Linked DNA regions of Homo sapiens: region 1 is linked to region 2. Evidence: fine-mapped QTL for protein levels in blood plasma. Region 2 holds a variant in brackets. A gene starts in the other region. All regions are shown on their reverse strands.

Region 1 (16,083 bases), not on the chromosome of region 2:
TACAAAGAACTTTTAATATTAAACCTGAAAATGGCTAAGATTAAAACTTAATGACACCGATTAAGAAATACACAGATCTATAGATGAAAGTCATCTATTGTCAGTTCATTAAAAAAATTGTATACATTTTGAGTTTCCTTTTTTGGCTAAAAAAAAAAAAGTGACCTTTATGATGAATCATACAGTAGATTGTATTTGTTGGTCGAAAAAGCACAATCTTTTGGTAAGCTAATTCTTTCTTGACATGTCTATATTAGAAAACTGTTAAGGATCTAGGCTATATATTAACCATCTTTCTTTCACTTCCAGTGTCTTTACATATGAAAAAATGCTCATTACTGAATTGGTCTAGCTTTCGACCAACAGTTACATTTCTCTCAAACCTGGCCTCATTTCTGTTAAAACCTAGCTGTATGCTTATTTTTAGATTTGGATGGGCATATTTCATTATAAATGCCCTTTTAAAAATTCAAAATCCATTCATGCTTTTGTGCATCCAACAAGTATTTATCAGGCTCCTAATAAATGCCAAGCAATGACAAGACTACAAAGGCAAATAAGACCCAGCCTTGCTCTGAACTTTACTTACAGACTAGAGGGAGAGACAGGCCAGGCAGCATGTCACAACTCAATGTGATGAGAGCTGTGATACGGAAGTAAAGGCTGCTGAGGAGCATGGAGAATGACCATTGCATGCAGCCTGCGATTAAGGAATATCTGAGCTAAACCCTGAAGAATGAATAGGAGATAACCTGGAAAAGTGGGTGTCCAGGGGTCTATGGGATAAGTTGGCCTGAGTTGAGAGAACAGTGTATGCAAAAACATAAAGATGGAGGTGCAGGCTGGGGAGGGGATCTACCAGTGGAGCGACAACAAGTTTTGTTGGGCCAGCTTTCACAGGTGCCACAAAGGGCTTCTGATGTCCTGTTAAGAATACCTTGGATTTTATCCTAAGAGCAGTGGGGATCCATTTTCATTTGCAATATATTTTTCCAAAAATATATAATGCTTCATCAATTGTATTGTTCTCTCAGTGCCGTATCAAGTCTTAATCAGCTTTATTCAATGCTGTTTTTGCTGTTTTCATTTCCAGTGTTTTTAAATTCTTTATATTTAAGTAAAGAAAACATATTTGTACTTTCATGGGATTAAAAAACAACTGAACTCATTTTGGTTCTCTCAATCACTCCTATTTTTCCTTGCCTCAGAGAAAGAAGCAAATAAAAAAATTCACCACTAAATTCTTCATTTGCAATCGTATGGGCATTTCTCTATGGCATTTTACTCAATATAGAATAAGTAGAGCCTGTGTAACCTCACGCAACTTAACCTCTCTGTGCCTTAGTTTATTCAACTATAAGATGACCGTTACTATCATTTACCTTATAGGATTCTTATGAGGGTTAAATGTGACACCATATGCAGTGTTTAGCATAATCCCTGAATTATAATAATTAAATTGTAGCTATTTTTGTCATTAAGCATTATTGAACAATGTACATATATGAACATGGTTAAACTTTGAATTTGTATTTTATTATAATTCTAATGGTATACACATACATATACATATATGTGTAAAGCATATATATTTACACACACTCATGTTGTACGTTGAAAGTCCTTCCAGAAACTTTTAGTAGAAGTTATCTCTGAGGCAAGGACCTAAATGATCAGGGAGGGGAGAGAATACTTAACTTTTCTCATTTTATTCCTTTCTGTAATCTTTAATTCTTTTTTAACCTTTTATAATAAAAATTGGTGAAAACCCCTGTTGTGCAAAATAATAAAAAAAAAAAACATTATTCTCAAAGCTTAGGATAATTATATGGAAATCATTTTATATAGAGAAAAAAGCATGTGGAACTTAGGTTTGATTGGCCTAGAAAAGAGGAAAATTAAGACTAAGAGAGAATTAGTACCTGTTCTCAAAAATCTGTTGTCTAAGGGCTACCATGTGAAAGAAGGATTAGACATAATTTGTATCTAGAGAACAGAAAGGCTGATTTTGCCCAAATAAAAAGAACTCTGCACTGATGAGAACAGTTCAAAGACACTGCCCCAGTAGCTAAAGCTCCATCACAGAAAGTGTCCACCATTGGCTACCTGGCCAACTTTCCGAGATTTGGTTCCAGGGATTCCCCTTCCAAATCTATGAAATCTGGCAGTCTCCAAGCATTTGAAATTTGAAACTTAAATTGACGTATCTTATTCTGTAATCCAGTAACTGGTGCATCTTTAAACGATTATCCAGAAACATCCAAACTATAACCACACATTAAATAAGTTATATAAATTGGCTGGGCACAGTGGCTCACGCCTGTAATCCCAGCACTTTGGGAGGCTGAGGCAGGCGGATCACCTGAGGTCAGGAGTCCAAGACCAACCTGGCCAACATGGCGAAACTCCGTCTTTTCTAAAAGTACAAAAATTAGCCTGGCTGGTGGTGGGTGCCTGTAATCCCAGTTACTCAGGAGGCTGAGGCAGGGGAATTGCTTGAACTAGGAGGAAGAGGTTGCAGTGAGCCGGGATCACACCACTGCACTCCAGCCTGGGCAACAGAGTGAGACTCCGTCTCAAAAAATAAAAAAAAAATAAAAAATAAGTTATATAAATAAACTTTGCCTCCAACCTACAAGACCCTTCAATGGGCAGATATTCTTAAGAAAGGATTATTAGTACATATATGTTTATTATACTTCCATGAAGTATACAATTATCCAAACACGTATCTCATAATGTTGAAACCTGGTTCAAAATGTGGATGCTGTGTTTAAACACTAACTAAAATAGAATTTGTTAAAGGTAATTTTTGTTTCCAACCAGACTCACACTACATGGTATTTTAGCATTGTTCATTATCCTTATTCTTTTTTTTTAATATATACAATATTTTGTTTATTTATATATGTGAATTTCTATATATTTAAATATATAGAACAAAGCCTAAAAAGTGAGAATCAAAAGAGAAATCCTTACCTATCATTATACTTATTCTTTAAAAAGTATTAATATCTGTTTCCAGATTTTAATTGGACTACTCTTTTTCAGTTTGTCATTATGAACTTGGTAAATTAAGCCCAATATTGGAACACTTTAGCAGCTCAATATTGAAAGTTCTACTTTTGTGGTTCTACTTTCCCTGAAAAGTGGGGTGCACACAAGAGAAATAGGGGGTTTTCGGCATTGGGATAGTGCAGTGCCTTTGAGATATGACAGGATGACCTTTAAATGACAACCTTTTCTAGAGAATAATTTGAATGAAGAGAAAGTGAGCCAGGGAAGGCAGAGAGCTCTGGAAGTCACATCTGGCTAGGAGACTGCTCTGGTATCTACCACTTGAGAGGCTGTTGACTTAGAAAGCCATTACATTCCTCTGAACATGTACCCCTCTTTTATCTAAAAACAGGGGGGAAATCAAAGTAGATAAAAATGTTTCCATTTCAACAATCAGTTGATATTGTGTCTACCCAAAAGTTTAGTTCAATGGGGAAAAACTCAAACCTTTGAGTCAGAAGACCTAAGTCTGGCTGTCATTATCTATTCTACCTTTGATAGGTCTCCTACCACCTCTGAGAATAAGTTTCTTCATATGATAAATTGAAAGGGCAAGATACAAAGTAAAGAAAAACTGCAAATGTATTTTTATATTGTTTTCAGCCTCAACTAAAGCTCTGTGGTAAGAACAGCTCTTATGATTCCACTTTTATAAATGGGAACAGGCCAAGCATGGTGGTTCATGTCTGTAATCCGAGCACTTTGGGAGGGAGGCCGAGGTGGTCAGATCGCTTGAGCCCAGGAGTTTGAGACCAGCCTGGGCAACATGGCAAAAAACCCCATCTCTACAAAGAAAAAAAAAAAAAAAATTAGCCAGGCATGGTGGTTCATACCTGTAGTCCCAGCTACTCAAGAGGCTGAGGCAGGAGGGTCATTTGAGCCCAGGAGGTCCAGACTGCAGTGAGCCATGATCACACCACTGCACTCCAGCCTGGGCAATGGAGCAAGACCCTGTAATCACAGCACTTTGGGATGTCAAGGCGGGCAGATCACTTGAGACCAGGAGTCCGAGACCAGCCTGGCCAACATGGCAAGAGCCCGTCTCTACTAAAAATACAAAAATTAGCCGGGTGTGGTGGTGCACGCCTGTAATCCCAGCTACTTGAGGGGCTGAAACACAAGAATTGTCTGAACCCGGGAGGTGGAGGTTGCAATGAGCTGAGATCGCACCACTGCACTCCAGCCTGGGTGACAGAGCTATCTGTCTAGAAAAGAAAAGAAAAAGGTTACTAGGTTTTTCAGCGAGTAACAATAATGCAGAGGTTTGATCCCAAGTCTCCAAGCACAGACACATGCTGCTTCCCCAACCTATTTAATAAAATTCTGGGGAAATGAAATAAGAGAATTGTCCAAGTGTTCTATTATAAACAGTCTTACAAGTTTAAGGTATTATTAAGACTAAGCTTTAAATCATGTAGCGAGATGTCAACATATTTTTTCCACTCATTAATATTTCTATCAGAGCAAAAGTCCCATAAACCACTGATCCTATCCAGCATGTCACAGTACAATCAGTTGAATAAATGGGCAGATTACTGCCACTTTAGAAATGATCCATGAACTTAATTAGATATACTAAACAAATGGATATATTTACACTGCACAGGCCACACTTTGAGGATCTTAGAAGAAAGAACTATAATTAGGCAAGACATATAGTTGTACTAGTAAAAGAATCCTACTCTCAGAGTCCAATCCTTCATTCAAACCAAACAAATCATTCTCAGTTGAAAATATGCATCAAAATCATTGTAAGATACCCTGTACTTCTACAACAAAGCCACAATATTCCCCTAATAAAATATAGGAGTGAATGATGGATAAGGGGAGGAGAAAAGGAATCCCTGCAGCCTCTTCACACAACACCACTTTGATCAAGTTTAAGAATCAACTCCTGGCAATAGCACTTTAGAGATAACAATATTCTTAATGAAACACTTTCCCATCACAACAGATTATTAAAGCAATCCATTATTCTTCTCTCCACCTATTAAAAAAGTCTGATTTAGTGAAAAAGACAATCCTCAAAAATCCAGGACTTACCATAGGCTGCTCTGTGTTATAGTTACTGCCCCCACTGAGAGTCCCCTAGAGGCCAGAAGGATCTCATTCACTACTGTGTTCCCTCACAGTGCTTGGCACATAGCTGGGCTCAGAAAATGTATGTTGAACTTATTCTACAATGTAACATATTTCAAAAACCAATTTCAACTCTTAAAATAATAATCCCTATGAAAAAGGAAAACATATGTATTTCATATTTCTTTCATTTTCCTGAAGTGAGGCTCCTTCACACTCATTTGGAATATGTTTGTTTTCATTTCAATTGTTTACATGCTCACTACATGTAAACATTATTATGGTGGCATCATTCAGAGAACATGAATCTTTTTAAGATTTAAAGGAGATTACATCCAGTCAAAAGATGGATTACACTTTGATATATCACAGATTTGAAAAAACATACATTGAATAACCACATACAACATCAATAAAAAAGTCCTGCCTGGGCGCGGTGGCTCATGCCTGTAATCCCAGCACTTTGGGAGGCCGAGGCAGGCAGATCACCTGAGGTCAGGAGTTCAAGACCAGCCCGGCCAACATGGCAAAACCCCGTCTCTACTAAAAGTACAAAAATTAGCCGGGCATGGTGACAGGTGCCTGTAATCCCAGCTACTCAGGAGGCTGAGGCAGGAGAATCGCTTGAACCCGGGAAACGGAGTTTGCAGTCCGCCGAGTTCGCATCCCTGCACTCCAGCCCGGGCAACAGAGTGAGACTCCGCCTCAAAAAAAAAAAAAAAAAAAAAAAAAAACAGTCCTGAAACCATCAATCCCTTGGGGATCATTTTAGTTTTATTTAAAATGGTCTAAGAGAATGTCCCATCAATATCTTGGTTAACTTCAATAAGAGCTTCAATGAGTAGAATTTGTTTTCAGCCCAGGACATTTGAGCATCTGTGGACAATATTTCATCCCACTTTGGGACAAGGAAAATAGAAAATAATAGCCCAAGGACAGCCATTACACAATTAAAATAAACAAGCATTTGTTTGCAAAGCAGGGCATTTAAATTCAGTTTGATTTCATTACTGTTCAAACGACCCCATATGAATCTTTCCTCTGGAATCCTCAGTTGTCCAGTATTAAAGTTACCAGTGTAGAACCAACCACTGAGGACTTCAATTATAAATATCTCTGTAAACAATTCTCCGAACCTGGTTCCCTGCAGAAGTAAGCAAATAGCTATAATAATACTCCTAGTCCAACATGGATATATTAAATGACTGTTTTGCTATTGAAATCGCAAATGCCAACAGCAGTTCCAAGAGAGGACTCTAACTTGCCAAACCTTTTATAAAAGACAGTTGCAAGCCCCGATACAAAGTTTAGAGGAATTTCCTTGTCCCTACATGTAAAGGTTTATGAAATCTGTACACTCAAGCAAAAGGACAAACAAGATCAAAGCCAACACATGAAATAAATTTCATTGTGCAAACAGTAAAAGCTGTGTAAAAGAGCTCTAGATCCCAGGTTAAAAACTGCAGGAGAAAGGTAACATTAACCCTAGCAGACGGCTGAGTTAAGATGTGGCAGAGCTTTACAGAATTGCAAATAGCATCAGCATTGCAAGAATAACAATTGGAATAAATACCGTCTGCATGCTGCAAAAACAATCAACGCACATGCTCCTTCACCTCTCCCCCTCATCCAGCTGGGCAGTGAAAGCAGCTGCCTCTCCCAGCCCTCCTCCCAAGCCGTTCTTCGCCCCACCCGCTCCCCTCTCTTCTCCACCCCTCCCCTCCTCCTTCCCTCCCCCTCCCCGCCCCCAGCTGCCGTATTCAGCAGTCTAGAGAGATTAGGAGGAGCTCGCTACAGTCTCTGGGCCTCAGGACTGATCTAACGTTTCGTAGCTCCCTGGATGAGAGAAATTAGAGACTCGACACCCAGGTGGTATTAGAAGCCTTCGCCTCCAGCCCGGCTCTCTCGCAAACCGGGGCTGGGGGACCACGGGGGGGCCTCGGGCCGGGCGACTGGGAGGCTCCGGAGGCCGCGCGGGGCTCAGCGCTGCACTCCCCTCGGGCAGCGCTACCTGAGCTGTCCATGGTGCTGGCGCGGTCCGGAGGCTGTCGGGCGGGACTCCGCGCCGCTGCCCCGGCGTTCACTCTCTGCTTGCCGCCAACCCCGCCGCTTCCCGCACTTAAGTCCCCGTTACTGTCCACCAGCTGCAAAGATTCATAACCATCGTTGCTGGTCTTTTTCCGGTAGCTCCCGAGGAGGCTCATGGGCAAGCCCGGAGAAAAGAGAAAATAATCAACCTGGGAAGCGAAAAGGGAGATGGAAGGTGGAAAGGGCTGAAGAAGGAATTAAAAAAAAAAAAAAATTAAGTGCCCGACATGACGCAAAGAGGAGGGAAAAGAAGGAGCGGCCACCGGAGAGAAGCTTCGCCGGGCGAGGCGAAGCCGCCGCCCTGGGCTGAGCTCGGCTCGGGGCGCCGGGAGGAGGGAGGGAGGGAAGGAGACGCGGCCGGGCGGGGGCGCGCGTCCTCTGGGCCAACGCCGCGGAGCCGCCCGGCCCTGCCGAGCTCCGGGCCCCAGGCCAGCACCTCCTGGCTGAGGAGTGCCCGGAAGCAATCCTATAGGTGTCGCCGCGTCGCCCCGCCGCGCAGCAGGGCAGCGCCAAAGCCGCTGGCCCGCGGGGAGGGAAGGAAAGGGAGGTAGGAAGGGAGGGGAGGTTCGTGAGGAGGGGGGTTGAAGGGAAACGGGGCGGGGTGGTCGGGGGAGGGGACTACTACGACGTGGGTTGGGAGGGTGTGTTCGCACGCGTGTGACAGAGAAGAAAGGGGCGAGGTATCTCGGCCTGCGAAGCTTTGAGGACCAGGGGTCTTGTGGTAAAATCCAGACACACCCATTTCATGCAACTTAGCCTATTTTCACCGGAAGATTCCGCCAAAGCCACCAGGACGGTAACCGTCCTAGAGAACTGACTTGTAACTCAATTCAACAGAAAAAGAATGCATGTTAAGTGCCAGAATATATCTATGCTAGGATATAAAGGAAGAGCAATATTTTGCACATTCTCCAGAATAGGGATGATCCCTAAGGGAGATATCAAAGAGTTGGGTATTCTAATACTAGGAGGCAGCGTCCGTTCTGCCTAGAGAGCAGATGTGACTGTTTAGAACTCTTTGTTGAGCGAATAAACTGGGGAGAAGGGCAAGGTTAAGTCCGACGCATTTTCAGATCCGCCACCATTTACCTTAGGACCTGGAGAAAAGACTGTTTCAGTTAGCTAGCTTGAAGGCCTGCTTGGGAAGCAAGATAGACAAGGATTTTTTTTCCCCATCCTCTAGCCTCACGCCTTATTTTTCTTTCACAATTCTGGCCAAAGAAAGCAGTAACTCATAATCAGAAGAGAATTTATCATGAAGTTAATTAAGCTGTGTACCTAATTTTGTATCTGTCATCGTGTATTCTTAAAAGAAGACTCCGACATTGTATAAGTTCTGGATCTGAACAAAACCTGGATAAACTCTGGTAAGTCTTAAAATGTAATTATCGAATGTTTATTTTCACCTAAAATAATAAGATTTCAGAAGGATTGCTCATTCTCATCATCTTAGGTCAAGATCAAGTAAGTCTTGGTTAAAAATTATCATTTTCTCTACTAAAACTTGGAGGGACTAAGTGAGGCGCCCGTCAAGAGTCATTTGACAGAGTTTCCTCACCAAAACAGGAAAAAAGTACGTGCATGTAAAATGTACTTGAGCCCATACACAAAGCCAGCTTTGCTTTCTTCTCATCTTACATGGTTTTCTCTTGCTGTCCTTATATCAATCACCTAAGGACACAAAATCAAACAATAGCATCTAAGAGACTTCAGTCCAGATGATTTGGGTCTCAGAAAGTTTCCGGGAAGCTCTAGCTCTACACAGTTCTACATAAAATAAATTGGACTAAGAGACATTTTCCTGTACAAGGATCACCCAAACACAGATTCTTGTAGGAAGAGCATCAACCAGAAGAAGTCCAAAGAAATGTTTTCTAAATCCTTCCAGTCCTTCTGGGGAAACCTAAACTTCCTGGCCAGTTGCTTTCCCAACTGCATTCTTTGATGAGGTATGGTGTGACCTGAATTGCAAATCAGAGTTAATGCTCATTTATAACAAGATCAAACAATCTGAATGGTGGCAGGAAAAACTGCAATAAAAATTTTAAAACAAATTTTTATACTTTCAATTTTCCAAATCTGTCAGATTGAATTATTTTAGTTACTTGACTAAAGTAATAATTCTGTGAAGTCTAGTAAATCTTTTCCCATAACATCTTAAATAATCTTTCTCTGTACTTTTTCTTTTAATTCATTACAGACACACAGGGACAGTAAATACCTAGTGTTCATCATGTGCCCTGACAAATGCTGGACTATAATCATTGGATTAATAGAATTTAGAACCAGCCTCAGTGACAGACTGAGACCCTGTCTCAAAAAATAAATAAATAAATACAGGATCATTTTTGAAAAGTGAAAATTATTATTTTCAAAAAGAGCACTTTCAGTTATTTTTGCTCAACTTGCAGACATATTGCTGAAAGAAATTATAGATGAGACATATGCCTTTGTATTTTTCAATATCTATCTCTGGAGTTTGCAAGTGTAAAGAAAAATCTGAATGGGCTATAAGAATTTTATCTTTATACTTAATATAAATAAAGTCAATCAGGATAACTATTAATAATCCTATAAAATTGAAGATATAAGAAGCATATTAAGGCAGGAAAATACAATAACTAGGTTAATTTACAACAGCCTAAAAACTAGGGCTTGGGCCTAAATTTGGATATGCACCAATTTCAACATTAAAATTTTCTTTACTGTGCTAAAGATCAAATTCATATACTTATCAATGAATATCTCACTGTTCTACTCTATAAAACAAGCATAATATGAGTACCATCATTATATAGAAGAATTAGATTAGTACCTAACATATATATATATATATATATATAGAGAGAGAGAGAGAGAGAGAGAGAGAGAGAGAGAGAGAGAGAGAGAAACAGATTGAGAGAGAGAGTAGTACTTAACAATTGTTCTCTATTACCATTATTGGTCTGTCTTGGGTGCAGCTTTAAGCTCAGCGCCTGGCAGTCTTAGTTTTTCAAATGGGAAAAGCTCAATAAAGGCTAAATATTATTTTTTCCAGGGATATCCTAATGGAAAATTGTCTTTGTAACTTTGAATGAGAATTTGGGCTTAAGGGAGGTGGCACTGGTCAAACACAAGGTGAACATTTACAGCCTAACTCTTGGTTTTCCAAACTCAAGACTACTTCATAACTTATCTCAAAAATACTACATCATACATGAGACAACGGCAAAGGATAAGATGCCCTCTTCTGGGGACAGCAATCATTCCCTTTGTCTTTTCTCTTGCTGCCTTCAGGTGCTTTATTAACTTGATGAAGATTAGTGACACTGAGGAATACTGAGGAACCAGGCTCTATTCCACCCCATCCCCTTCATACACACCTCATTCCAAATGCTATCCTGTCACAGCAGATGCCACATCACTTTTGGGGTGGGCTAAGAGATCAAGGTATGTATGCCATGACCTATGTAGGATTTTGATCTGTGATTTTCATTTCCAGAGAATATAATACATTGATTAAAATTGAAGTTGCCAGCCAGGTGTGGTGGCTCACACCTGTGGTCCTGGCACTTTGGGAGGCTGAGGTGGGCGGATCACGAGGTCAGGAGATTGAGACCATCCTGGCTAACACGGTGAAACCCTGTATCTACTAAAAATCCAAAAAAATAACCAGGCGTGGTGGCAGGCACCTGTAGTCCCAGCTACTCAGGAGGCTGAGGCAGGAGAATCGCTTGAACCCAGGAGGTGGAGCTTGCAGTGAGCCAACAAAGCGAGACTCTGTCTCAAAAAAAAAAAAAAAAAAATTGAAGTTGCCTATGATTGATTCTTAGTTCCAATGACTCCTGGCTCTATGACTTTGGGCAAGTTACTTAACCTCTCTGCCTCATTTTTCTCCTCTGTAAAGTGAGGATTATAGTAATGCCATCATAATAAGGTTATAGTAAGAAGTAAATTAGTTCCTAACATATAATAAGTGCTTAACATATGCTATCTATTATTACTATCATTCCACTTCTTTTTAAAATGTCACTTTTTCAAAAATGCAACTTCCCATCTGTAAAATTAAGTTTAAATCTGCCCAGCTTACCTAAGAGATTTGTTATCATTATGACTATGATAACATAAAAGCAGTTTGTCAAATGTGAACTGATTGTTTTGCCCTGAGTTTTTAAATATTCACGTGTATGTATTTCCTATTGGATTTGGACTCTTTGAGGGCAAAAATCCATGTTTTGTTCATGTTTGTGTCCCCCATGACACTCCAAAGAGCACCTCGCTCTCATTAGATATTGAGTAAATATCTACTGAATTAATGAATAAACAAAAATGTCATGGCATTACCTAGTCCAGTGATTTAAACTATATGCTGTAGCCGATGAGTAAATTATAAAGTATTTTCATAAAAATGAAATAGGTTGGAAAACATCAGAGTTTGGAACGCAGTAAGATATTGTTTCTTAAAATATTGTTTTGGGTTTGTGTGATATGTATGAGTGTGTGTATGTTTCTGCTCAGTAATGATATAAATGTATTTCTCACTGTGTGTCCTGATTATAAATGTTTTTGAATGTCTATGTTATGGGACAATCTCTGGTACTAAGAGGTCCTAGTGTTCCCAATTATGAATGTCCTATACACTGTGACATCTGAATTCATTTGGCTAATTGGACCACAAAGAGTTTTGGCTAAGCAGACAGTAAATGAAGCCAGAGCTTCTACTCTGTTCTCTCTGTTACAAAATATATTATGATCAGGTTTCTAAAATGCGTCTCTTCAATTTTCTGTTTTAACAAACATAAATCAATGCACAGTATTGAAACTTACTTTGGCAATGTGCCTGAGGGCCATAATCCAGATTATCTCCTTATTGAATAAGGCCTATAGATATACATAGTGCAAGGCACTTCAACTGGGGAACATCAAGCCATCTCTGACTCCCAGATGTGTTTTGTCGGTCCTGTACTTCTTAAAATGAAAAACATTTTAGTTTAGATGCCTTTACAGAGGGTATATAGGCTCCAGTCTGAGGACCATAGTTCACTACTACTTCCCAATGTAGAATACTCAGCCTCCTCCACTCATTCCTATTACCAGTTAGCCCTTGCAGGCATTTGAGTTTGAGACCTGCAGTGTAGTGGCAAAACCTTAAGGAGAAATACCCCCAAGAGAGATGCCAAAAGACACATCTTTAGGCCACAGTCCAGAAGAAAGCAAAATAGACCGAGAATCCTCTCCTGACTCTGCTCTTAATCAGCAGGGTGGCCTTGATCCATTCTCCTTCTCTCAGCAGTAAAATCGAAGATGTGGAATTACATGATTCTCTTCAGTTCTCAAAACTTTAGTTGTCACTTCCCTCTCTCCTCCAAATGATGTCCATAGGGGAAAACCATAGTCATTTAAGTGCTACAGTTTGCTGTGTCCCAGTTAATCAAGGTTTTGCTATAGAAATGCATGCATAAATAGTAGCAGCTGTCAAGAGCGACATATAAAGCAACACACAAGATAGAAGAGGAGGTCTGCTGGAAAAAATCGGGTGAGCTGATGGATGACATTTAACAGAAGAAAATCTGAACTATTCCTATAATGTTTCTTAGGAGTGGGGATATCTGTTCTTGGTGTTTGATGGGGTTCTGGGTCTTCCAGAAAATAGGACAAATTTCCCAGGTAGGGCTTTTTTTTTTTCTTTAAGATAACCCAATATCATGAAACCTGTGTTTCCTTGATGCTCTAATAGTAACAAAATAACTGCCATTGATTATTTATCATTTGCCAGGTGCCTTACCTACCTTAAATCTAAAGATTTTATTCTTATTTTGAGGCAGACTTGGAGAGGTTAAGTAACTGGCCCAGGGTTACACAACAATCAGTTAGGATTCAAACCTCCATCTTTCTGATCATGCTTTGGCCACTGAGGCAGCCTAAAGAGGCAATTCCACTGATCAAAGTGAAAGCTGAAGGACATTTAGGTCATTCCTTAGATCTGACCTGCCTTACTAAGTGTGGTCAGTGGAAAATGGTTTGGGCAACTTATGGAAATTGCACTTTGGGAGGCTGAGGCAGGCAGATCACCTGAGGTCGGGAGTTCGAGACCAGCCTGGCCAACATGGTGAAACCCCGTCTCTACTAAAAAACAAACAAACAAACAAACAAAAAATTAGCTGGGCATGGTGCCACGTGCCTGTAGCTCCAGCTACTCAGGAGGCTGAGGCAAGAGAATCACTTGAACCTGGGAGGCAGAGGTTGCAGTGAGCCGAGATCATGCCACTGCACTCCAGCCTGGGTGACAGAGGGAGACTCCGTCTCAAAAAAAAAAAAGAAGAGAGAATCAAATGAGGCGCATGGAAGCACATAATAAACACTAAAGCCCTAAATACTGCATGTTATCAAATCTAAGAAACCATCCATTTTAAGTCACAACATAAGAAAAATATGCTACTAAAGAAAGTATGACATACTATCAATCTTAAGATACCCCAAGATTTCTTAAATGTTAATATGTTAAAAAACTTTTATAACCGATGTAACAAATGTTATTATTTGACCGTATATTAGTCTGAGAATATATTTGTCAATTTATTATTCACGTATTTTGAGCAACTCTGGCAGGTGAAGACAACACCCATCATGTTTTATGAGGTCTAGCACAGTGCCTGCCAAGTAATAGGTGTTCAGTAAGTATCTGCTAATTGAATGAAAATACCAAAAAACTTTATTTTGGAAGCCATCTTTAGTTTACAGAAAAAATCGCTCTGGTTTCTTTAATGAGCTCACTTAAAAAACACATTTCCATTTGCTAACATTTAACTTATCCTTGACTTTTCAAGGACATGCTCATAGTATAACAACGTTTGCCTTAGTTCATTTTGTGCTGCTATAATAGAATACAGGAGACTGGGTAATTCACAAAGAGCAGAGATTTATTTCTTACAGTTTCTGGGGCCAGAAAGTCCAAGATCAAGGAGCCTACATCTGGTGAGGGCCTTCGTGCTGCATCATCCCATGATAGAAGGCAGGAAGGCAAGAGAGGATAAGAAAGGAAGAGACAGGCCGGGCGCGGTGGCTCACGCCTGTAATCCCAGCACTTTGGGAGGCCGAGGCGGGTGGATCATGAGGTCAGGAGATCGAGACCATCCTGGCTAACAAGGTGAAACCCCGTCTCTACTAAAAATACAAAAAATTAGCCGGGCGCGGTGGCGGGCGCCTGTAGTCCCAGCTACTCGGGAGGCTGAGGCAGGAGAATGGCGTGAACCCGGGAAGCGGAGCTTGCAGTGAGCCGAGATTGCGCCACTGCAGTCCGCAGTCCGGCCTGGGCGACAGAGCGAGACTCCGTCTCAAAAAAAAAAAAAAAAAAAAAAAGAAAGGAAGAGACAGCAAGGGGGTTAAGGGGGAGGCAAACTCCCTTTAATCAAGAGTGCACTCCCATAGTAATGGCATTAATCCATTCATGAGGGTGGACCCCTTATGGCCTAATCACCTGTTAATGGTACCACCTATTACTGTCAGAATGGCAATTAAATTTCAACATGAGTTGTGGAGGGGATATTCAAACCACAGCAATGTTATACTGTAACATATATATTATATATATTATATATTATATTATATAATATATAATATATATAATATTATATATTAATATATCAATATAATAGTATATTATATTGATATAATATATTAATGTATATATTAACATAATATATAAATGTATAATATAATATATAATAAATATATATAATACGTATTATATATATTTTTTATATATATATATATATTATATATTATATATATAATATATATAATACGTATTATATATAAAATCCACAGTTCCTGTATAACTCCCATAGCCCTCGACATAGTAAACAAAACCTCTTTCTCTTTCTCTCCCTCTCTCTCTCTCTCTCTCTGATGTTCTACCTCCCTACTTTCACCTGTCCAAGGCAGGACTCTTATCTGATTGTGGGTCATAAGACCCTCATCCCAGAGGGTGTCCTGCCCCATCCCTGGGGGAAGAAATGCTGCACAGAGAAGACAAACAGAGTCTAAACAGGCCTTATTGGGTTTAGATCATATACTTTTTGTCCATGAATCACATTTTAACACAGTTGTCCATGCTTCAATCATGCCTACCCAATGAAGTCTTCATACAAGGCCCAAGAGGACAGGGTTTGGGGACCTTCCAGATAGCTAAGTGGAGGTTCCTGGAGGATGGTGCACCCAGAGAGGGCATGGCAGCTTGGCATCCCTTTCCTTGTATCTTTGTAATATCCTTTATTATAACCCAATAAACGTGTTTCCCTGAGTTCTGTGAGCCGCTCCAGCAAATTAATCAACCCAAAGAGGGGATCATGGGAACCCAAACTTGAATCTGGTCGATCAGAAGTTTTAGAGGCCCAGACTTGCAACTGGTGTCTGAAAGTGGAGGTGGTAGGTTGGGGGAGCAGTTTTGGGGACTGTGTCAGTGGTATCTGACACTTATCTCCTGGTAGATAGTTTCAGAATTGGAGGACACGCAGCTGGTGTCCACTGCAGAATTGATTGTTTGTTTGTGGGGGGGGAAGTGCCCATTTGATCACAGAAGCCTTTAATTTGTGTTGATTTTTGTTGTGAGAAAATAAGAAAAGGCACTTTGAGTGTGTTTTTCCACACACAGATACACCTACATTACCATTTCAAGAGCAACTCATGGAAGCATCAGTCCTTTTCATCTGTCATTTTACAAGTAGGAAAACTTCAGCTTCTCAAGTGGGCTGGTTCTGTGATCGACTTCTCTCAGTCTTGAAGAAAACACTGGAAATTTTTATGTGGTAAATAGTTTCCCAAAGTCAGCTGCAAACCAACACTGAAGTGAAAGTTTTCCTAAATCCTGGATAGTCCCAT
Region 2 (16,083 bases):
CTATGTTGGCCAGGCTAGTCTCAAACTCTTGACCTCAAATGATCCAACCGCCTTGGCCTCCCAAAGTGCTGGGATTACAGGCGTAAGCCACCAAACCCGGCCCCTGCACCTGTGGATTTTTGTTTGTTTGTTTGTTTGTTTGAGACAGAGTCTTGCTCTGTCTCCCAGGCTGGAGTGCAGTGGCACCATCTCGGCTCACTGCAAGCTCCACCCCCGAGGTTTACACCATTCTCCTGCCTCAGCCTCCCGAATAGCTGGGACTACAGGCGCCTGCCACCACGCCCGGCTAATTTTTCGTATTTTTTAGTAGAGACGGGGTTTCACTGTGTTAGCCAGGATGGTCTCGATCTCCTGACCATGTGATCCGCCCACCTTGGCCTCCCAAAGTGCTGGGATTATAGGCGTGAGCCACCGCGCCCGGCCGGCACCTGTGGATTTTTATAGTAGCTAGTGATTGTTTTGCTCATAAAATGCTGGGGCCAGAAGGAACCACATCTTATAATATATATTTGTTTCTAAAGTTGACATCTATTTATTAAATATTTAAATATTTTTAAAATATATATTGAAATATTAAAACATGTATATATAATATATACTTATATATTTAAATATAATAAAATTTAAATATAAATATATGTTAAATATAAAACAAATATATTTAAATATTTACAAACATTTAAACAGTATACCCCCATAGGTACCCACTTACTTGTAAAATAGGAAACTTTTGAAAAACCAAGGGAAGTTCTCATCTTGCTTGTCAGGACACTCACTAAACTGCAGGGGAGGAGAATGCGAGTCTGTGGGCCTGTCTCTGAAACTATGGGTCCAGGGCATTCCCACTAAACACAGCCGTATTTCTGAACTGAACTATATGAATATTCACCCGAAGTGGGGAAGAGAAGGACCATAAGTAACTTCATGTCAATTCAGGCCAGCTTTTGTCACCAAGTGAGTCCATGCCAAATTTACAAAAAAATTGCCAGTTTTCAGAGTTTCCTGGATTTCAGTATTGTTGTAAGGGGTTGTGGGCTTATGTATTTTTTAAAAAGATGTTTTGACTCCGTCTCTAGAATTTAAATGGCAATTAGCTCCTCTGCTGGTCATGTTCTCATGTTCTCTCATGTAGACATATGCCTGGTGTAGTGAAAGGTCTTATTTTGTTGGATGGATGGATGGATGGATGGATGGATGGATGGATGGGCAGGCCGATGGAATATACACTGGGAATTAGAGAAAAAACTGAAAACCACCTACTTGCTTCTTGGAAACTCTAAGATCAGCAAAAGGATTCTCCCAGGAAAAAAAATATAGGGGAAGACCCAGAATGAAGTGGGCGAAAGGGATAAGGGTAGGTGAAGGAGGAGTGGCAAAAGGTCCAGAGAGAGGCCCTAACAGGCCTATAGGGAACTGGAGCCTGGGAAGCTCTGGACTGGCTTAGGATTCTAAGCTCTTCTCTGCAGAAAACATCTATCCAGCTGCCTGCTGGGTACATCCAGGTGGATTCTGACAGGCACCTTAAACTTAAGGTGGCCAAGCTGAGCCTGTCATAGTCCCCCCAGATCTACTCCTCCCAAAGCACCCCCCAAACTCGTTGGTACATATCAACTCACTTCTTCCCATTACTCAGGCCAAACCTCAGGACTGTCCTTGACTCCTCTCTCCCAAGCCATCAGCAAATCCTGTTGACTCCACCTTCAGTAGTTCCCCAGAACCTGACCATGCCTCGCCACCTCCACTGCCAGCCCCTCTGGTCCCAGCCACCAGCATCTAGCCCGGATGATTCCACCACTGGTGCTCGGCAGTCTCTCAGCCCAGCAGCCAGACGGGGCCTGTTAACCCTGGGAGAGGCGGCGTCATGTTAAGTTCTACTTCATACCCCTCAGCTCGAAACCCTCCGATGGCTCCCATCTCATCTGCAGCAAAAGCCAAAGTCACCCCTAACTCCACTCCCCGCCAAGCCTAATACCTCTTTGACCTCATCGCCAAGCTAGATGCCTTCCCTCACTGCACTTCCACCCTGCTGGCCTCTGGAAGCTCATTCCAGCTCTGCCTGGAAAGCTCTTTGCCCAGGTATTTGGAGGGCTGGCTCTCCGACTTTCTTCAGGCCTTTTCTCAGATGTCACCAGGCCACCCACTTGAGAATGGGTGCTCTCAGCCTCCTTCCCTGCTTTCTCTGTCTCCTTAGCATTTATTCCTATATAACACACCATAAGTTATACGTATTTATTGTATTATCACTGTCCTCTTGTTAGAATGTCAGCTCAGTAAGGGCAGGAACTTCTGTTTTATTAACTTCTTTTTTTTTTTTTTTTGTGAGACGGAGTCTCACTCTGTCACCAGGCTGGAGTGTAGTGGTGCAATCTCGGCTCACTGCAACCTCTGACACCCAGGTTCAAGCAATTTTTCTGCCTCAGCCTCCTGAGTAGCTGGGATTACAGGCACGTGCCACAACGCTCAGCTAATTGTTGTATTTTTAGTAGAGACAGGGTTTCACCATGCTGGCCAAGATGGTCTCGATCTCCTGACCTCATGATCTGCCCACCTCGGCCTCCCAAAGTGCTGGGATTACAGGCATGAGCTGTTTTATTAACTTCTATATCCCCAGGGCTGAGAAGAATTTTGGTGCTGAGTAGGCAATTGAGAAATATTTGTGAAATGAATAAACAAATGGTTTCCTTGACACTTATGGGGAAAGCATATGTAGAAATGAAGAGTTGAGAGCTGCATTGGGTGTGGTGGCTCACACCTGCAATCTCAGCTACCTGGGAGGCTAGGGCAGGAGGATCGCTTGAACCCAGGAGTTTGAGACCAGCCTGGGCAACATAGCGACACCCTGCCCTTAAAAATTTTTTTTTTTTTTTTGAGATGGAGTCTCACTCTGTTGCCCAGGCTGGAGTGCAGTGGCACCATCTCAGCTCACTGCAAGCTCCACCTCCCAGGTTCAGGCCATTCTCCTGCCTCAGCCTCCCGAGTAGCTGGGACTACAGGCATCCACCACCACAACTGGCTAATTTTTTGTATTTTTAGTAGAGACGGGGTTTCACCGTGTTAGCCAGGATGGTCTCGATCTCCTGACCTCATGATCCGCCCACCTCAGCCTCCCAAAGTGCTGGGATTACAGGCGTGAACCACCGCACCCGGCCAAAAAAATTTTTTTTAAATTAAGAATTGCTCATAGGTACCTTAAGTTCATATTGCCATCTCTGAGTCAGTAGAGCCCAAATTGGATGAATCTGGATGAATGGGGCAGGGGAAAGAGGAAAGGAAAAGTTGCAGGTCATAGTGCTGGGTGTTGCAGACCAGGGCTTTGGGGCACAGCAGAGAAGGAGTTAAATTGTGGTGCCACCGTTTATTAGCTTAGTGGCTCTGGGGCAAGGTTTGACATCTGTGAAATCGATAATAATAGCTCGTGTGGTTGCTATATTAGAAATAATTTCTATAAGCTATTTAGCACAGGGGCTGGCATCTAATAGGTGCTCAGAAAAAAGTAACTGTTGTTATTATTATTATTATTAGGATGAAGCAAATAAGTAGTAAGTGGCCTGGGATGATCAGTTTTTTACTGTGGTTTCCTGACCAGGACCAAATGCTAAGGAGGCGTTTAGTACATACATCTTGCTTGACTGAGTGGTCGGCCTCATGCTGTCTGTTTTAGGGTAGGAAATTCCCTTAAATTAACCTAGAAACTCATGGGTACTAATATGTCCCTCTGCAAACATAAGTGCTTCGTAAGAACAAAAACAGCACGAAAAGTTGTTGGAGTCCTACATCTTGGTTGTGGCATGGGTCCCTCTGAAATGACTCCCCAAACATCACATTTATGATGAGTTTTGGGGAGTGGCCAGCTCTACAGATGAGAACATTTTAAGACTGGTTTCCCTTCTCTGTTATCACTGGCTCTTGGATGCCAACACAGTCAGAGTCTGGAAATGAGCCACTTGGAGCCGGGGACTGGCCTGGTCTTCGTGCCAGGACTTGAGTTGGGCCCTTAGGAGCAGACGGCCTGGCCTTGCTGCACCTCAGTTGTTTTTTCCTGAAAGTGCATTCCTGTTTTATGATACATAGGTCTTGCATGTTTGAAAACCCTGTTGTATGCCCTGGCAATTCCTTATTCTTATTTTTAATGTTTGTGAATTCCATGACTTTCTAAAAAGTACAGTTGACTTGCCACTGCCTGTAGATGATACATAAAGCAGATAGATTTTAAATGCTGTCAGTCCATTTACACCTGCTACAGTCCATGTTTCAAAGTGGAGAAAAAGCTGAAAAGCCATTAAAAATATGTAGAACTTACATGTAATGGTCCAATATAGTGATTATTTGTCATTTATTACATAATGAAGCCCAGATGTGCTATATATGGTAAGCCTATTTCTACTAAGATCTCTGCAGTTTTTTTGGACGTGTGTGCATGTGTTTGTGTATATGTCTGAGACTGGGGGATGGGTAATTCATAATAAAAAACGAGATGAAGTCTCGCTCTCTTGTCCAGGCTGGAGTGCAGCCTCAAACTCCTGGGCTCAAGCAATCCTCCTGCCTCAGCCTCTCAAGTAGCTGAGATTATAGATGTGAGCCACTGTGCCTGGCCATAAGAGGCTTCTTGTATTTGAACTTGGCTGAAAAATTGAACAGTAGAGACAAAAAAGCAAGGCCGTGTGATGCGGACTGGGCTCCTGGCGTCCAGCAGTTTTTAAGGAGGTGACAGTTGAGCTGAGACTGAAATGAGGAGAGGGAACCAGCGCTGTGGGGTTCAGAAGGAAGAGCCTTCCAGGAAGGGGGCAGCAGGTACAAAGGTCCTGCAGTTGTGTGGCTGATGCCTGGCGAGCAAAGCAAGGAGAGGCAGAAGAGGCAGGGGCAACCTGCAGGGCCTTGGAGGCCATGGGCAAAGTTTGGATGCTATTCGAAGTATAAACTGGATCATTGGTAGAGTTCACATCAGCCGGTACCTGTCAGATCAAAGGTGTCCAGTCATTTACCGGAAGACCTGCTTTTCAGACTCCTGACATTTGTTCATCATTCATTCATACAATCTTCATTCATTCATCCTTCATTCATTTATTCATTGCCTATTTTGAGTAAAGTGCTATCCTATCCAGTTACAAAGACCAAAGACCAACAAGGAAGAGGAGTCAGTATCAAATAGGCTTTGCTAGATGTTTCTACAGGGCACAGAGGGCAGACAAAGTGGGGAGGCCAGCTGTCCCTGGAGCTGAGGAAAGGTCTGAAAAGAGGATGTGGATCTGAACTGCATCTTGAGAATAGTGTTCTGCAGGCAGCAGATGGGGGAGAGGGGTGTGGCCATGTTTTCAGGACTGGGCGGCCCATGTTTTCATGTCCCCGTGAATGTGATGACTATACACTATATAAGTGGAATCATAGAGTATTTGTGTTTCCGTGACTGGATTATTTCACTTAGCACAATGTCTTCAAGGCTTATCCATGCTGTAGCATGCATCAGAATTTCCTTCCTTTTTAAGGCTAAAGAATATTCCATTGCATGGATATGCCACATTGTGTTTCCCCATTCATCCATGGATGAACACTTGGGTGGTTTCCACCTTACAGCTATTGTGAACCATGCTAAGCAGAGATCTCAAAGGGACTCTTAGGTAGAGGGAGAACCTGGACAGAGGCTCAAAAGGCAAAGGAGGAAATAACTTCAAGAACTGAGCACCATGAAGAGTGAGATCCAATGGCAACCAGAAAGATTAGACTTGCCCAAGTCCCATGTGAAAAAGGATTGGGTCCCCACAGAAAGGCAGAAGGCTTGACTCATGAACGCCTGTCTCCTGGAAAACTGTTGAAATTATACCAATGATATAGAAGTCCATTCCTAAAGCTGCAACAGCACTTAATTATACTTTTTTAAAAATGCAAACTGTTTATCTTTTAGAAACTGTGCCATGTTTCCAAGGATACATTTCTGTCCAAAAGGTGATCTGTGGGGAAAGGCCTTAGAAGCAGTTTCCAAAAAAATTACCAGCCCACAAAAATGTATGCGGGCTCCACCCAGGCCAGTGGAAACCCAAAGAAAATAACACGAAGGCCTTTTTCCCACCTCTCCTGTCCTTCTCAGAATACATACAGACAGATGTAGCCTGCCTTGAGAAAAAATATATTTGGAATTCCAGACCCACTGAAAACAGACTAAAAGATGTGCTTCTGATTTTAAAAGGAATTATTCGTTTTCTTGAAGAATTCACCCTACTAGGGACTTCAGTGAGGAGCTCTCTGGGGTCTCCATCCATTTCTTTAGAAAATATTTGTGGGCCTGAAATATCAAACATCTGAGGAGCTTATAATTAGTTAAGCATTTACGTGTATTAATATATCGTCATGTGGACAGTTGAGAGGGGAGAAGGCACTAGACAAATTTAAAATTGTTAGAAACCATTGGCAACTGATATTCAGAGCCTAAGTTAAAAGCAGGATATGTCTCAGGAGCAAATCTTTTGTGTAAATCCTGGTATTTTTACTGCAGACCTTTAAAATGACAGACGCGGGTGAGTAAAAATTACTTCTGGAAATGGATATGATTAATTAATTCAATTAATTAATTCAATTAAATCAATATAATTCAATTAATTAATTCAATTAAATCAATATAATTCAATTAATTGCCAGCCTTGGTTCACACTGATGAGTGTGCTCATTGGAGAGACTCAGCATGCAAAAGAAAAGACTCATCAATTTGCAGTTATTTAATTTCACGAACTGCCGGATGGTGGAGTCAGTAGCAGCGGCTGGGCCGCAACATGGCGCCTCCCACCTAGACTTCCGGTCAGGAAACTTCCACCTTCCTCCGATTTACGTGGGCCTGCATGAGCCTACTTCTCTTCTTATTCTAGTGCCAGTGGCCTCTGGAGTCTTGGTCCTTCTTACTGGAAGTAGCCCTCCTCTCCTGTTACAGAGGCAATAATTCTCCAGCCTTCCGGTCGCCGCCAAAGCCTCCTGCCTAATCACTTCCTGTATTGTCTCCCTGCGGCTCTTTGCACAGACCTTGGGCTC[T/C]GTCGTCTCTGGATTCTTACTGATCTCTTCCTCTTCTCCCAACCGCCTTGTCATGTCTCTTTGAGCTATGTCAGGAGGAACGGAAGGGCACTTTCTTACTACTTTTGTTAGCCAAACGGACAAACTGTCCCCTCCCCTTTGTTGTAACCACACATTCAAGGCTTCCTTCAGTCCAGCCCCATCTCCCTTTTCGTTGCCTCCCTTTCACTACTCCAAATGAGCTTGCCATACTTTAAACGGGTCTTGTACTTTCTTATCCCTTCTCTGGAATGTCATTTCTACTGAAGAAAATCCTACTCTTCCCTCAAGACCCTTCTTTAATCCCCTCTTGCCATGGAAACTTGAGATTTTCATTGAGGAGCTAAGTTGGAAAATATAAACTAGAGCTGAGTCTCTACCCTGGCACTATTGACATTTGGGGCCAGATTATTCTTGGTTGGGGAGACTGTTCTGTGCACTGTAGGATGTGGAGCAGCCTCCCAGGCCTCTACCTGCCAAAAGCACACTCCCCTTTCCCCAAGTGGTGACAACCAACTGTTTCCAGACATTGCCAGATGTCCTGAGGTGGGAGTGAGGGTGAACAGAATTGCCTCCCAGCTGGGGGCTGCTGGACTAATCAACAAGAAGTGGCAAGGACTGCAGGCAAATTGCCTCAGCACTTAGATTTAGCACTGCAAGGCCACTTCGACAGGTGGTAGTGATTTGTGCGTCTCATTTCCTATTCTTGATTGTGACAAGGTTCTGGAGGATGGAGACAGCTACCCCTGCCACAGTTCCCACAGGCTATGTTGTACATAGGGCTTCATATTTAACATGTGAGTGAATGAAACACATGAGCCCGAGTGCTCTTCAGGACGGCAAGGCCTACATCAAGATGGTAAACCTTCAGTTCTTAAAAAAAAAAAAATCACGCAGCCCGTGCCTGAGATCCAATAACCTTCAAACTCCATGTTTTCGATTTGATCTCAATTAACATTCCAGCTCTTTCAATATGTACTTTTCCTTTACCAAATTTCAAAAGAAATTTTAATCAAAGACCCCTACTGTTAATTAATTTCCCTTTTTACCCAGCCAAAATTGCAAATGAAGTTCTTTTTCCAGAAAGTTCGGGGAGCGGGGAGGGGTTTTATAACAGAGCTGCTGCTGAGTCTCATTGCTAGGAGCTGAGTACACAGTGGAGAATATGAAATCCCGAATTCTATGTCCCAGCCCATTGCAGTGGCTTGATTTGTCTCTTGTTTTGCTTTGGAACTTTTCAAAGATTTCACTCTGTTAAAAAGTCAATTTGGAACAAATATAGAGCTGTTATGTCTATTAGAATTGTTTCAGCAACGAAATGTGGCACTCAGCATTTGTTGAACCAATGAATTCTCCTTTTTGCTCTGAGGGAAAGCAAGGTTATAGGGCAAGTTGTATTTTAACCCTTAGCTTTTTTTTTTTTTTTTTTTTTTTTTTTTGTGGTTCAAGCAGTTTGTGAAAGATTTGAAAGCTGCATACATTTGGGGTCACCCCAAAAAGTCAGCCCTGGGCCACGAGCAGTGGCAGAGGAAGCAGTTACAGAGAATTAACAGAGTTACATAAAATTTACTCACTTTGTAGGCAAATATTTCTAACCTTGGCTCCCTTTCTTAAAGATCTATTTCCCCAGCTTTGTTCCCCAGCTCAAAAGCATTTCCCAACACGTGGATCTGCTACCACTGGATCTGCCAAAGCAGAATCCTCTTTTTTTTTTCCAGTTCTTTTTTAGGCCTTCCCAGTAGGCTGAGGAGAAAGTCTCTCGTGGGTGTTAAGGTATCTTTAACCCCTCTATAACACTCCTGACCTCTCACGTTTAACGAAGAACAGACTTCAAAACTTGAGAGCTGAGTGTTAAAGAAAAATAGTAAATGGTAGTATTGGTGGTCCTGGAATGTGCTAAAACCACCAAAGAGACACTGACTCAAGATCATTGCCCAGGTGGCTCTGACGAACTTGGACGAAAACGCATCTCACTGAAGTCTCTATCTTGCGGCCTCTTTACAGGTGTTATTATCAGCCAAGCACCCACTGCGCTGTCTCGGTGCAGGGAGAGCCCCCATTTCTCAAGTTCCCGCAATGTAGCCCCACATTTCTAGTTAGACCAGTAACAGTTCTCATCAGGAGGAGAGGTCGTTTTTAATGCAAGTCAAAATATAAACCACTGAGGCTGGGATAAACTTCAGGGGTAGCAAAGTTCTTTTATTGTTTCCAAATAGACACTCTGGAATAAATTATACATTTAGTTGTCTGGTTACAAAGCTCATAGATAAAATCATGTATGACGTCATTTATCGAGTCATTCACCTTCTCTGATCTATATAAGAATGTTCAATGCTGTGTGATAACATTTTTGATTCTTGTATAAGAAAAGAAGAAAGAGGGTTTTTCAAGAACAGCAGAGAGTGTTACGTTGGCCACAGAATCAAGCAAATGGGCAAAAAAAGCAGCCCTCAGTAAGGAGTAGCCAGACTTTAAAAGTAGTGCCTGTTAGATCACCAAGGTTATGTTTTAAAAATAAAGGGAACCTGGCACAGTGGCTCATGCCTGTAATCCCAACACTTTGGGAGGCTGAGGTAGGAGGATAGCTTGAGGCCAGGAATTCAAGACCAGCCTGGGCAACATAACAAGACTCTGTCTCCACACACAAAAAATTAATTAGCTGGGCCTGGTGGTGCACACTTGTAGTCCCAGCTACTCAGGAGGCTGAGGTGGAAGGATTACTTGAGCCCACGAGTTACTTGAGCCGTGTTTGCACCACTGCACTCCAGCCTGGGTGAGAGGGTGAGACCTGTCTCTAAAATAATAATAATAATTAATAATAATAAAGGGTTGCCATGATGTTACCCATGGGTACATACTATGTGCCTGGTGTATTACATGTATTACTTCTAATCCTTGTAAAAGCCCGGTGGAATTGGAATGATGATCACGCCCTCAGAAGGGTAAAGATATCTTAATGCATGTCTCAGTCCTTTGGGCAGGTAGCTGAGGAATCTTTCCTGCCGCTAAACTCCATGCAATTTGCCTTTCTCCTTAGTTGCTTCCCCTCTTTGTTGCTTCAGAAAGGGTTGGGCCCAGGGTCTAGGAAGAAAGGCAAGGCCCAAGTGAAAGAGAGATGTGTGGGTCCCAGCCTGGGCACCCTGCTCTTGCCAGAAACCCGAGTAGCCTGGACCGCTCGTTCTTCCTCCCCAGGGTCTAGTCCAAGGCTGTAGATGGAGCTGTCTCCTCTGTTGCCCAGTGTTGAAGGCTAGGGGTCATCTCATCCTCTCCCCACTCTGCTTCACCCCCACTAACCCACTGCCCTCTTTTCTACTCACTACTTCCTATAGGTCCCACCACCCAAACTGGTCTTGTATTGATTCTTCCCTTTCTGTTTCTGATTATACTGTTCCAGTTCAGACCCTCTCATGCAGGACTGTTAAAGTAAACTTCCGATTTCTTCCCTTAGATGAAGGGTATGGTGCTGGTCCTCTTGTTCTGTGTTCTTCCAAATCTGGTGCTTCCAGCTGCCCTCAACAATGGCCTTAAGATGGTGGGGGACCCTGGGAGGGGGAGACCACATGATATGGTGGAACATCATGGAATACCAGGAGTGCGTTGAATTAAATCATGTGAACTCATATTTTATTAATGCAACATGATTAAATTATAAGAAACGAGGCCAGGTGCAGTGCCTTACGCCTGTAATCCCAGCACTTTGGGAGGCCAAGGTGGGCGGATCACGAGGTCAGGAGATCGAGACCATCCTGGCTAACATGGTGAAACCCCGTCTCTACTAAAAATATAAAAAATTAGTCGGGCATGGTGGTGGGCGCCTGTAGTCCCAGCTACTCGGGAGGCTGAGGCAGGAGAATGGCATGAACCCGGGGGGCGGAGCTTGCAGTGAGCCGAGATCGCGCCACTGCACTCCAGCCTGGGAGACAGAGCAAGACTCCATCTCAAAACAAAACAAAACAAAACAAAACAAAACAAAAAACAAAAACGAGAGTGTGCGCAGTATCAACTATGAGCATACATTCTTTAAAACTGCTGTTGATTGGGTGAGACAGACTGGTACAGGGCTTCCCAATAATGTGAAACCTGCAGGGTATCACATTAGTTTTTGTTTTGTTGTTGGCTACTCTTCATTAGCAAATAAGAGGAAATATCTACCAAGGGTTTAAGAAATATTGGTAGGGAAAATGTTTTAAATTCGAGGAACCTATTCAATAAATATTTCTGCAGATTGGCGCAAGTGCCATTATTTTATTTGAGCAGTGCCTTTATTTTATTTGAGCAAAGGAAGCCCACAGGATGTTTTAGTATTCCAAGGAAGTGGGGATCAGCAAACATTCTCTATAAAGGGCTAGATAGTAAATGTTTTAGCTTTTGAGGCCCAGATGGTCACTATCTCAACTACTCAGCTCTCCCGATGGAGCTTGAAAGCAGATGTAGACAACATGTGAGAGCTTGGGCCTGGCCGTGTGCCAATCAAACTTTATTTATGGATGCTGAAATGTGAATTTCATGTAATTTTCATGCATCACAGAATATTTTGATTTTGATTTTTTTCTAACCACTTCAAAATGTAAAAGCCATTCTTAGCTCATGGGCCATACACAAACAGGCTAGCGGCTGGGCCAGATTTGGGTGGTGGGCGGTAGTTTCCTGACCTCTGCCCCTGTGGTGCAGTCCAGGGGCTCTGACTCGCATTCGTAGACTTTCTCCAAGTGGTCCATCCTATTTCCCCCTTTATTCCCCGAGCTCCACCCAGCTTGGTCTCTTGACCCCTTCCCTGCCCCACACACCCTCCCCTTGTTTACACCTCTGCCTGATTTTCCCTACCCCACCTCCAGCAGGGTCCAGGACGGGATGCTGCCCAGACTCCCCTGCCCCATTGTTTATGGTACCCTGTTCCATCTGGAGTCTGCACCTGTTACCTTTTGCCACGTAAGGAATTATCTGTGTATGTCTCCTTTTCTTTCTCACCCCATCCATGCAAAACCCTTGAGGATAGAGGCCATGTCTAACTGTATTTGTGGGACACCAAATAGAGTAATTATTTGTCAAAATTACATGAGTTCTTACTAGATAGAGATCACATCTACATCTAAAAATCATTTTGCTTACTTTCTAGTAAAATAGAATCTCTTAAAATATTTGTGAATTCTTAAACTTATCCTGAGATGATTTATTCTAAGTGTCTTCTAGATCATTACCGGCCAATAAAGAAACATAACACAAGCCACGTGTGAAATTTGCAATTTTCTAGTAGCCGCATTTTATTTATTTGTTTTTATTTATTTATTTATTTGAGATGGAGTCTTGCTCTGTCGCCCAGGCTGGAGTGCGGTGGCGCGATCTCGGCTCACTGCAAGCTCTGCCTCCTGGGTTCACACCATTCTCCTGCCTCAGCCTCCCGAGTAACTGGGACCATGCCTGGCTAATTTTTTGTATTTTTAGTAGAGACGGGGTTTCACCATGTTAGCCAGGATGGTCTCAATCTCCTGACCTCGTGATCCACCCGCCTCAGCCTCCCAAAGGGCTAGGATTACAGGCATGAGCCACTGCACCTGGCCTAGTAGCTGCATTTTAAAAAGTAAAAAGAGACAAGTGAAAGTAATTTAATAATACATTTCATCCAATGAACTGTATTGAAAATATTCATTTCAATATATAACCTATATGAAAAATTATTGTCGAGATATTTCACATTCTTTTTTGTGTGCTAAGTCTTAGAAATGTTAGTTCGGACCAGCCCCATTTCAGGTGCTCAGCAGCCACGTGTGGCCCTGGCTTCTATACCGACTGCACAGGTAAAGGTGTTAAAGTCAAAGCAGGCACAAGTTTTAAGTCAACTCTTCCTTTTAAAAGGTGACCACTATATTGGCTACTTACTGGCGTGCAGATACTTCATAGCCGTGAAAACATAAGGTCACTGACAAAGTCTGAGTAGCGTGGGTCCACCTGACCTCAGCGTTGTCCATTTTCTAAAGTGATCATCACTGGACTTTGAAACACAGGTGGTGCCCTCCAAGCCACCTGAGTGATCTGTCCCCAGAATTCCCTAGTGACCATTTCAGGACTTTGGGATCCTGTGTGTAGTCCCCATAATTCTGACTGCTTCTCTTTTACATTATAAAAGTCTTACGTTTTCATCATTAAAAAAAAATCCAAATTGTAAAAAAGAAAAAAAGAGCCTCTGGCTGCTTCTTCCTCTCTCCTCTGCCCCTCCCACCACTAAGAAAAGTTTGGTGTGGATGGTTTCAGATATTTCACAGGCCTGTAAAACATACATACGAATTCTTTAGTGTTTTTTGCATTGGGATGTAATTCACATGCCGCAGAATTCAGGCTCTTAATGTGTACAATTTAGTGGCTTTCAGTATATTCACAAGGTTATGCAACCATCACCACCATCTAATTCCAGAGTCATCACCCCAAAAAGACACCCTGTCCCCATTAAGCAGTCACTCCCCACCTCCCTTCCCCAGCCCCTGGCAGCCACTAAGCCACTTTCTGTCTTTGTGGATTTGCCTGTTCTGGAAACTTCATGAAAATGGAATCATATAGTAAGTAGCCTTTTGTGACTGGCTGTTTTTAGCATGATGTTCTCAAGGTTCATCCACCTTGTACCACGTGTTGGTGCTTCATTCCTTTTCATGGCTGGACTAATAGGGTTTTTTTGTGTGTTTTTTTTTTCTTCTTCAAAAAAGAGATCTTATTTTTCTCACTTTTCTGCCACCTGCTCTTTTACCTAATATTTAGCCTGTATCTTTCCTTATCACTTTCTACTGTGTTTGTGCTTCATTCTTTCTACTAATGGTCTGATATTCCACTCCTGTCCTAAGTACTTACTTAGCCTTTTATTCTATTTTATTTTATTTTTTTGAGACAGAGTCTTGCTCTGTCGCCCAGGCTGGAGTGCAGTGGCACAATCCCGGCTCACTGCAACCTCTGCCTCCCGGGTTCAAGCAATTCTCGTGCCTCAGCCTCCAGAGTAGCTGGGATTACAGGCATGTGCCACCACGCCCGGCAAATTTTTTGTATTTTAGTAGAGACGGGGTTTCACCATGTTGGCCAGGCTGGCCTCGAACTCCTGAGCTCAGGCAATCTGCCCCACTCAACCTCTCAAAGTGCTAGGACTGCAGGCATGAACCACCGCACCCGGCCTTAGTTATTTATTTATAGGCATTTTGGTTATACCTTCCACTTTACCGCCAATGCTGCAGTAAGCACCCGTGTCCAAATATATTTGTGTACACGTGTGAGATGTTTGCCCACTCGCGGCAGGGAAATTGCTGAGCCTGATGGACTTCCTCCCCTTGGCGTTAGCTTGCCGCCACTTACATCTGCGCTCCATTCCTACTATAAAGGTGACTTTCCACTTTTGTCCTCTCCTGAAACTACGCCGCCTCCAGCAGGACCGGGGCCACCTCCTCGCCTCCCCGACACCACAGGGCCTTTTTTTTACCACATGCGTGTCCGTTGCCCTAAGTCCCCGTCCCACTCCTTGCCTCTCAGGCCAACACAAACTCTTTAGCTTCTTAACATTTCAGAGTAGCAGGTCCCGGACCCTTTGACAGCCTCGTGAAAACTTGTGTCCCCACCCTCCAGGAGAATGCACACTGAACTCACCCACAGTGTTCTGTGGGCCACTTAGGAGGTGCTCAAACCCCCTGGCAGCCTCTCCCTCCCCCGGCCCCTCCTCTGGAACGTGTTCCCTGTCAGCTTAGCTCTGCCTATCCTACAGTCCACGTGTGACTGACTCAGCCTCATTCTGTCACCGTGAGCTGCGCCCATGCTCGCGTGTGCCTCTTGGGGAGGCCTGGCTGCTGGGCTGGTTTGCGCAGCCACAAGCTCATGCTTGTCGCCCTTGACTCCTGCGCGGACTCGAGCCTAGCAACGGCCTGCCCCGCCCCTCTGAATTCCCTCTGGACGCGTGGCTGTAAACTCTGCTACCTTTATTCTCCAGCAGAGCACTCGTTCTTCTGCCTTCTCAGCGGAAGACCTTCCTTCCAGCAGCCCAGCATGCAGCCTGCGGGGCCACCCTCCGTCCCAAGCTGCTTTCTTGGGTCATTGACCCCCTGCTGCCATGGCCCGGGTTTAGGGACTTGAGCCCCTGCTCTCTCCAGCCCGAGGAGGGAGCTCAGTTGTGCAGCCACTAGATCCTGTTCTTGAATGTCTTCCTTGCTGTTATAGTTGGCTTCTTCTTATGGTACAAATTCTTTCTCTTTAACTCTACGTAAACAATTTAAAACCAGAATTCCTGTGACCTAATCCTCGATAAAGTTATTCATTCTTAATCTGAGCTTTTCTCCTATTTTAAATTCAGTGAATCATGGTTTTCTTTTTTAACATCCTTTAAGATTTCTGAGACACCAACCTCCACAGTTTTCCTCCCCCCACTCCCGGATGTAGAATCTTCTAGAAACTCCCTGCTCCTTTATTCTCCAGGGTTAATGTTCACTGAGGGCTTGGCCCAGAAAGTCTACAATTCTCTGACTCCCAAACTGGGACATAGTCTCATTTCAGATTCCTGATTGTAAAATGCCTACCTCCCGCAGTTCATTCCTCATTCAGTCCCTCGGCTTATTCTGTTGATGGGTCTCATGTAAACACGTTTTGCGGCTTAGACTCAGAGTTCCTGAAACAGATTTCCCCACACCTACTTCTCTCCCATCACTCGAGATTTTCACAAACAGTCTGTTAGGGATCGTGTCCAACAGATATTGTTGTTTGTTACTGAAGTTTATTTCTGAAAATGTTCGAATTGTACTTTGTACGTTCTCGTGCCTAATTTTCTCATAATTATGAGAATATTGCATTTTACTTCTCCTGAGGTGAGGAATGCAGGAATGCTTTTAGTCTCTATATCATTGTTTCTCTTCGTGGCTGGCATTTGCCAGCACTCAGCGTCATCTTCTTTTTTCAATTGTGATAAAATTCACATACAATTCACCTTTTTTTTTTTTTTGAAGATAGGGTCTTGCTCTGTCGCCCAGGCTGCAGTGGGGTGGTGCGATCATGGCTTATTGCAGCCTCCACCTTCTGGGCTGGGACTATAGGTGC

Direction of the effects. Positions count from the first base shown, and alleles are read on the strand shown. Strength reflects both the effect of a copy and how common the allele is.
For the plasma level of the protein whose gene starts at base 7,543 in region 1, T is the high allele of the variant in region 2 and C is the other (moderate association).

Evidence for each region. PIP is the posterior inclusion probability: the model's chance that the variant is causal. Protein levels are from antibody-based Olink assays in UK Biobank. Linkage for the fine-mapping came from a reference panel and not from the study's own genotypes, which makes the PIPs less certain.
Region 1: DNAJC6 starts here. The variant in region 2 is fine-mapped to the plasma level of the DNAJC6 protein (UK Biobank, PIP above 0.99).

The regions. Positions count from the first base shown.
Region 1 is chr1:65,301,003-65,317,085 of GRCh38, reverse strand. DNAJC6 (DnaJ heat shock protein family (Hsp40) member C6) reads right to left here and starts at 7,543. Exons shown (of 19, transcript NM_001256864.2): 1 at 7,148-7,543. The coding sequence starts at 7,340. It overlaps DNAJC6-AS1 (DNAJC6 antisense RNA 1), which reads left to right and starts at 7,852. Exons shown (of 3, transcript XR_007066155.1): 1 at 7,852-8,591; 2 at 10,501-10,653. LOC112268227 (a long non-coding RNA gene) reads right to left here and starts at 5,842. Exons shown (of 2, transcript XR_002958317.2): 1 at 938-5,842. RefSeq lists a silencer at 13,313-13,491.
Region 2 is chr19:6,091,354-6,107,436 of GRCh38, reverse strand. All of the region lies in intron 1 of RFX2 (regulatory factor X2), which reads left to right. Among named protein-coding and RNA genes, the nearest start is that of RFX2, 11 kb to the left of the region's middle. RefSeq lists an enhancer at 14,160-14,865. The variant T/C (reference allele first, on the strand shown) is at 7,015.